Homo sapiens: one gene and its partner. The protein of the gene in region 1 interacts with the protein of each later gene in a pairwise test. Each region holds a gene or a part of one and is shown in the gene's direction. Other genes may lie near its edges.

Region 1 (3,753 bases):
AATCCTAGCACTTAAGAAGGCCGAAGTGGGAGGACAGCTGGAGCCCAGGAGTTCAAGACAAGCCTGGCCAACCTAATGAGACTCCATCTCTACAAAAACTAAGAAATTAAAAAATTAGCCCAGTGTGGTGGTGCACATCTGTAGCCCCAGATATTCAGGAGGCTGAGGCAGGAGGACTGCCTCCTGGGGAGGTTGAGGCTGCAGTGAGCCATGATTGCACACCTCTACTCCAGCCTGGACAACAGAGCAAGACCATGTCTCAAAAAAACAAAACAAAACAAAACAAAACAAAAAAACCTTGCAAGATTTTGATAGGAATTTTGTTAATCTGTAGATCAGTTTGGGGACAATTGACATCTTTTGTGTGTTGATTTTTCTTCCAATTCATGATTATCATCATTGGAAAGAAGTGAGTATGATGAGTCTTCTAAGCCAGGCAGATAGCAAAAAAATTAGGAAAGTAAATGGATTGCACAGGAAGAATTAACTGGGATTTAAATAATCAAAGACAGAAAGGATATATAAAAGAAGTGACGAAGGAGATTTACCCTATTAGACTCCAGTGTATTAATCTAGGACAGTTTGGTTGCTATGGGGAAGCAGTGTGCAAAAACTTAAGAGGCACACAAAAGACTGATGTTTATTTTGTGGGAGTGAATCTTTTTTTAGGAAGGAAATAGCACTATTGTGGTAACAGTGATTCATTTTCTCCTCCTATCTTCTCTTTACAGAGAAGACCCAAATAGTGAACTGTTTCATGTAAGTTTTTATTTATTTTTGCCCTACTTTTCTCTAGGGAGGGGCTTACCACAGCTTATAAAAATACGTAAAACAAGATCAAATAAACTTTAAAATGAGGAAAAAGCCAATATGGTCCAAGGGAAAAGAAGATCAGGGTCAGGACTGAGATTAGGATGCAAAAGCCATGCTATGAAATTTTGTTTGTTTGTTATCTTGAGATGGGTAAAAAAAAAAAAAAACAGTTGACTGGGACAAATACCCCTAGCACAAAACAGTCATGAAGCCAATGTTTAATTATTATACCTGTCATCTTTTCACCTGGCCTCAGGACTGTCCTCTTAGGGAGAGGCATTGTTCTGTAGGGTTAATTAGTAACAGGAATTTAGATCCTGCTTTGAGAGGCCTCCTGTGCTGGCCGAAGCAGCTGGTGGTCTGAGAACCCTGACACCCAGAGGCATACCACTGGGAGGCCCCGCGCAGCACACAGCTTTTGCTGTACTCCAGCCCAAGTCTTATGGGGTTTGTGGTTTATACTGAAGTTGGTGCAGACAATTAAGACTCTCTGTTCTTGGTACCGACAGGGACAGAGACCTACAATTGTAAGTATTTTGTAAACAGGGTTGTGATATTTGTTTGAGTGTATTCAACATGTCAGTGGCCTTTTAATGTTTAAAAAAATGCATATGGCCATTTAAGAAGTGGTTGTGCTTCATAGTTAATATTTTTTTCATTAGGTTAGGTTCATCTGGTTTTTCAGTGAGGTGAGCTACCTGAGAGCCATAGGAAGATAGATCTTGCCAGTTCAGAGGACTGACTTTGGCTTTAAGAGAAAATATTTGTGTCATTTTCGAGAAAGTACTTCCAGCACAATGCTTTCTTCTGATGATTCATTTTCTACAGTTATTGGAAGTGGGAAGAAATCCACAGAGGTTACAGAATTTGTAAACTTGTAGAGACATGTGCCATTATATCATGCTGTTTCATAGATGTGTATGTCTGTTAGTTACTTTTCGGGCATTCATTGTATATATGTCTGTTACTTACTTTTGGGGTGTTCAGTGTCTGAGCTTTGTCAACGATTGTGTGCTCTTTTTTTAGCCTAAAAAAACTAAGTTAGAGAAATGTTTGCTCATCCAAATCTGTATTGTTGTAGCTTATTCAGTAGACTGCTGTTGTATTTTTAATTTCTCTATACAACAAGCTGAAAGACAGTGTGGACAACCTAATTGCATTTGAAGTAGCTGCTGGCCAGGCCTGCTGCAACAGCTGATGGGCTCCTCTGAATTTCCAGGGCTATTTCTGGTAGATGAGCTGGTATCAAGGCTCTCGAGTTCAGGCCATAAAAGGCCCGTCCCATGTGAAGTTGCTTCACTGCTCTGACTGCGTCCTCCCCAGGCTGAAGTGTCCTCAGGTTTCATGTGGATTTGCCCAGTAATGGATGGCTCCACCGAGGCCAGGTTGGGGAAGTTCAGCCTCGAGGACACTAGGGGACGAAAAACTTCAAAAAGAAGACTCTTTTTATTAATATTTTGGCGTTCTTTTTGGAGAGGAACTTTTGGGATGTAGCCTTTACCTGTTTCCTGAATTTGACATCCAAAAAGCCTTTTGGAAAACACCATTCTAAATTTATCCTGTTCTGAATCATCATCGCTTCTGATAGATGCAGTTGCTTGCTGACATCGTGATCTTTGATTTTGTACAACGCTATTTGGGCTAACTTTTGGGATTTTACTTTGTGCTTAGAATTTGAAAGTAGTATTCATTGGAAAGAGACTCCAAGAAAATACTCGAAGACATCAAAAGCTGGATTCGAGGGTATAACGTGTTTTGTTTTGTTTTTTAAATTAGAAAAATAAGGAATTGCAGTGTGATTTTCTTTCCCCCTTTAACTTAGAGGAACGAGGATTATACAGAAATTTGAAGTAAGTGAAAAATCTTCCTATAAATCTAAATGCAGTAGGTTTTTTTTTGTTGTTTTTGTTTTTGCTTTTTTTTAAGTGCCATCTGTCTGAGCATGTTTCCTGAGGATTTGTTGACTTCAGTCATTGGAAAATTCCTGCCAGCGTTTGCCAGTTACTGCAGCCATTCCTGTAGATACCCTTGGGCATATTTCTTGGGTTGAGAAGGATTGGACTTTTTTTTTTTTTTAAAGGATTTACTTTATGGTAGAGAAAGGTTTAATACTAAAAATTTGATTAATATAACTTAGTACATTCTGTCTAAATGTTAGCACTTAAAGTCTTGGAATTAAAGTATATTCACAATGCAACGTACTTTAATAATCGTAGCACAAGTATGGGGGTGGAGTTCAGAAGGGCAAGTTTTATTTCACTGCCATTATAATTCATGTAAAAATAGAAAATCACCAGTGATCCTTTTGCATAATCTTTGTTCTGAGGGTTCTTTGCCTTGGTACTCTCATTCTTCAGGGCTTGATTTCTAGAACTTGCGATGTTCCAGAATTTATGAGAAAAACCTCACTGTAGGTTCTAGAGTTTGAACTGCATTTTATTTTTAAATTCTCCAAGAAAAAATACTGCATCAGCCTTTTAAAGCCCTGGAGATTGCTATGGTCTCTTTGTAATTTAGCTCAGTGATTTGTTTCTGCTGAAAAACAGCAGTGAACTCTAGAACATAGAAGGCTTATTTGACGTGTTGCTTCTTTGAAAAAAAAAAAAGATTATTTCTTTATACCACATCAGATGGACAAGTACGGGCAGTCATTATTTTTACCAGGTAGGAAAACAGAGTATTTATAGAGAAGAACTTCATCGGTGAATACTGCGAGGGTTCTTCACCGGAGATAGTGTGGCAACCCTAGGGGGCGTTTGAAAATGCATGGGGGTGTTTCAGGTTTTCTCAATGACTCACTGGCATTTGGGAGGATGTGGTTAAGAATTGTAAATGCCCAATTTACATGGTGTAGGGGACAGTCCCATACAGCATTACCCTGGCCAAACTGCTGGTGGTATCCCCTGTTGAGTAAAACTGCAGGATATAAATTGTACCCTC
Region 2 (3,753 bases), on another chromosome or scaffold:
GAACAAGAGGCAAGGGAGTTGAGGACACTGGCAAAAGAGTGATTTCAGTGATGAACCTGCAGTCTAATCTGTAGAAAAGATGGGAAGACTCAAAGACACTGGTCCACAAGCAGAATATCGAGGTAGTGGATGAACAATCCAGAGAGAGTAGACTGGCTAACTGAGGGAAAGGACTTAAAAAGAGAAGAGCAGAGAGCCAAAAATGGACCCTTAGAGAACATCTGTCTTTGGTTGGACGGGATCCTCCCCCTACAAAACAAACAAACCAACCGGGGGAAAAATAAAGGGAGGGGAAGGGAAGCATAAAATTAAAGTCAGAGAAATATCACAGGAGTTACTAGAATGGTATCCATCCTATTTCCCTTGTTCAAGAAATGAATGTATTTCTTTATTGTTCATTGTAGAAAAACGAAGCACAAGGCTTGACTATACAGTGGCCACTCAATAGATATCTGCTGAAGAACGAATGAATGAATAGTAAATGCAAATTTCTTATTCAAACCTTAAAAATATCCTCTATTATCTGTCTTTCTAGCTGTTTATTTTTCCTTAAACAGCCTATACATAGTTGAATAATTACTCTGGGAAGCAATGGAATTGTAATTTGTGTTGAAGCCAGACACAATTTGGTTCAAATTCTAAAACTACCAGACACTAGACTGATCATGGCAATGTCTGACAAAAGTTTTCCTCCCCTACCTGCTCTCTCCCCTCCCTTTGGGGATTCGAAGGTAGAAGATAGTAAGAACAAGGCCTTTCCCCAAATAGCAGTTTTATCTCCCAAGATGATCTGGATTTTAAATTACTATGTGCAAAGTTACTAGGGATGCAAAAATGAATTAAAACAGATTTTACTGTAAAGGAATTTTTGAGTCTGATGGGGGAGTCAGACGTAGACATAAATACAAGACAAGACACGGCGAAAATCCTAAACATGAAGTTTGCAAGTTCCAGGAAAGGTCTAGGAAATAATTATCTCTAAGGAGTGGGTGGGATTAGGGAGGTTTTATAAAAAAAGTGACACTTGAATTGGGTACTGCAGGAACAGTCTAATGAAAGGTAAAGTCAGGGGGCTGGAAAGTTTGGTACCTATTGAGGCAGACAACAGCATTAGAGATCTATTACTTTAACAATTAATTGTTTTGCTTCTGCCTTTAGAAGCTTATTTATAGTTTAATAGGGAAATAAAACGAGTATATAACATACATAGAAAACTAGTGGGCTTCACGAAAAGCATTACACCCCGTTTTGAGGATTCTTCTGAATTTTAAATTCTGATGCAGTGTCCTCCCCCCACGCCTTAATCCCGGAAAATAAGTGTTCAGAATCACGTCTTAGAAATATGAACCATAAAGGACAGCATTTAAGAGCGACATCCTGCATTGCGTAGATTCAATTTCAAATTACTGTACTTAGCTTCTATGAGCCTGTTAACTTTTTAATAAAATGAGGATAATACTTTCCTCAAAGAATTGTTAAGAACGACACCGGATAAAGAATGCATGACAAACACAGCACCTAGTATCTATGTCCTAAATTTACGTTTAATTAAGTAGATTGGTACGTGCAGTTTAAAAGAGGTTTCACCAGGCAGCACAGTTCCCCTGGCTGTAGGCGATAGACCACGCCTTCCTAATCAGCGGGCGCATTCCCTGACTTTTGCGGAAATAGCGGTCCAAAACCGCGTCTAGCATTAGCAAAAGCACGTGGTCTCCGTCTCCCCGCAACAACAAAAAAGAACAGTAAACTCCGGCGCAGGCACCTCCAGTAGAGGGCTTGTTTTTAAAATCCATCCGAAAGGGCCAATCAGACGCGGCAGTCTGAGTGCGCAGGCGCGGATTGGTCCGCAGCTACTTAGAGTGACCAATAGGCGTGGAGGTAAGTTTGGTTGAGACCAGAAGCGGGCGAATTGGGCACCGGTGGCGGCTGCGGGCAGTTTGAATTAGACTCTGGGCTCCAGCCCGCCGAAGCCGCGCCAGAACTGTACTCTCCGAGAGGTCGTTTTCCCGTCCCCGAGAGCAAGGTGAGCGTCCTGACTGGGTCCGGATCCTGGCCCTGGCGGCGGGCGGTAGGCGGCGGGCGGCGTGGGGGTGCCGCTGGCTTTTTGCCGGCGGGTACTGGGCGGGGAGGCCTCTGGGATCACTCTCCCGGCCCTGTAGGTGCCGGGGACCGCCCCCTCCCACCCGACCGAACTGGAGAATCCGCCCCGGGATGTGGTTCGTAGGGGTGTCTGCGCCCTTCTGCTCGGGTTCAAACTGGTCTCGGATTAGTGTCCCAGACCCTACTCGGTCACGGACTCACACTTTAGGGGATCATTTTCTTCCTCCGTAAAAGAATTGGAGATGACTAGGTATTTCCAAGCCGCCTTCCCAGTCCCGTAACCAACCTTATTGAAATTCAGGCCCTGGTCCTTTGTTTTATTGAGTAGATGTAAGCTTGAGTTTTGATCTGGTTGGCGACGTGGGGTGCCTATGGTTAGTTACGCGAGCATTTCTCTTTCCCCTCTCTTCTTCCTCCCGTCCACATTTTTTTTTTTCTTTTTTTAAATAGAGATAGGCCTCCCTATATTGCCTAGGCTGGTCTGGAACCCCTGGGCTCAAGGGATCCTCCCGCCTTGGCCTCTGTAAGTGCCAGGATTACAAGCATGAGCCACTACGCCCGGTCCTCCCTTCCACATTTATTTGAACGCGCCTGTGTGCCCGGCTCGGCTGTGTAATGAGGACCCAGAAATAAAAGGCATGGGTCGTGTCCTTGAGCCTGACCTAGAGGAGAAGGCAGGGTTATCATTCTCAGACCCAGCCTTGGTACAGTGCACGGGGACTCTGGCTTTTTGGAGGAGGTGGGGAATTCTGACAACGGGAAAGCAGTGGTGGAGGTGGGGCAGGAGGAGGTCACACAAGAGCTTCCTTGGGGACTAAGGGACTGGGTAGTTCGGGCATGAAGAGTGCCCTCCACGTATTTAAGAGATAAAGATACAGCATTTTCTGGAAAGGACAATAGTCCTGCAAGTCCTCCATGCAGGAACCTTCATCCAGGGCTTTTCTTCACTCCCCACCTCGATTCCCTGTTCCTCAAAAGTAAACTTCTGGGTTTATTTTTTTGTTCTTTTGCCCCAATGGCCCAATACAGGTGGCTGATAGCTGATCCCTTAATGGGCCAAAATCTGCTCTAATCACAGTTAGCTTGGTCTACATCTATATTGTTCTCTATCTTAGACTTTGGAATGGAAAAGCATTCAGCTTGCCAGTCTTCTTTATGTTTATTCCCCTCATTTTCTAATCATCTTTCTAAATTGCTCCTTTTTATATTCTGTTGGCTATAGCATCTTGATGTAATGATTTCAGTTGCTGGCTGAATTGTTTAGGGCAATTACAGTTGTGTGTCTCTGGGTACAGTTCTTTGACTCCTGACAAACTAGATTGGAATGGAGGATATTGAGACAGGGTCAGTTGTCCTTTGTTGGTTGAGAGGCATGTGACTCCTTTCAGTAGTTTTGGGATAAATGGGAGTGGAATACAAGATGCTGTGTTCCAAGAACTGAGAGCTAGAAAAAAAAACAAAACTGGTAGCAAAACACAGCTTTCCAGGGCTTTGATATCCAACTTATATGTTGTCTAAGACCTTTGCTTCTCCCTCTTAATTTTTTTTATTGTTCTTAGTACTTTCATGAACTGCTTATTGTTTTGATAAAAAGTTTCATTGATAAAATCGATTGAAAAAAACCATTAAAATGGCCGTTAACTTTATTTAGTA

What was found. Proteins that work in one complex are often made in the same cells at the same time.
Region 2: the proteins of SVIL (region 1) and CENPF interact in a two-hybrid assay, tested with the Homo sapiens proteins (one study listed by BioGRID).

The regions. Positions count from the first base shown.
Region 1 is NC_000010.11:29,633,330-29,637,082, reverse strand, and holds the start of SVIL (supervillin), read left to right. Parts: upstream 1-2,111; 5' UTR 2,112-2,663; intron 2,664-3,753.
Region 2 is NC_000001.11:214,601,299-214,605,051, forward strand, and holds the start of CENPF (centromere protein F), read left to right. Parts: upstream 1-1,896; 5' UTR 1,897-2,023; intron 2,024-3,753. UniProt on the Homo sapiens protein: Required for kinetochore function and chromosome segregation in mitosis. Required for kinetochore localization of dynein, LIS1, NDE1 and NDEL1.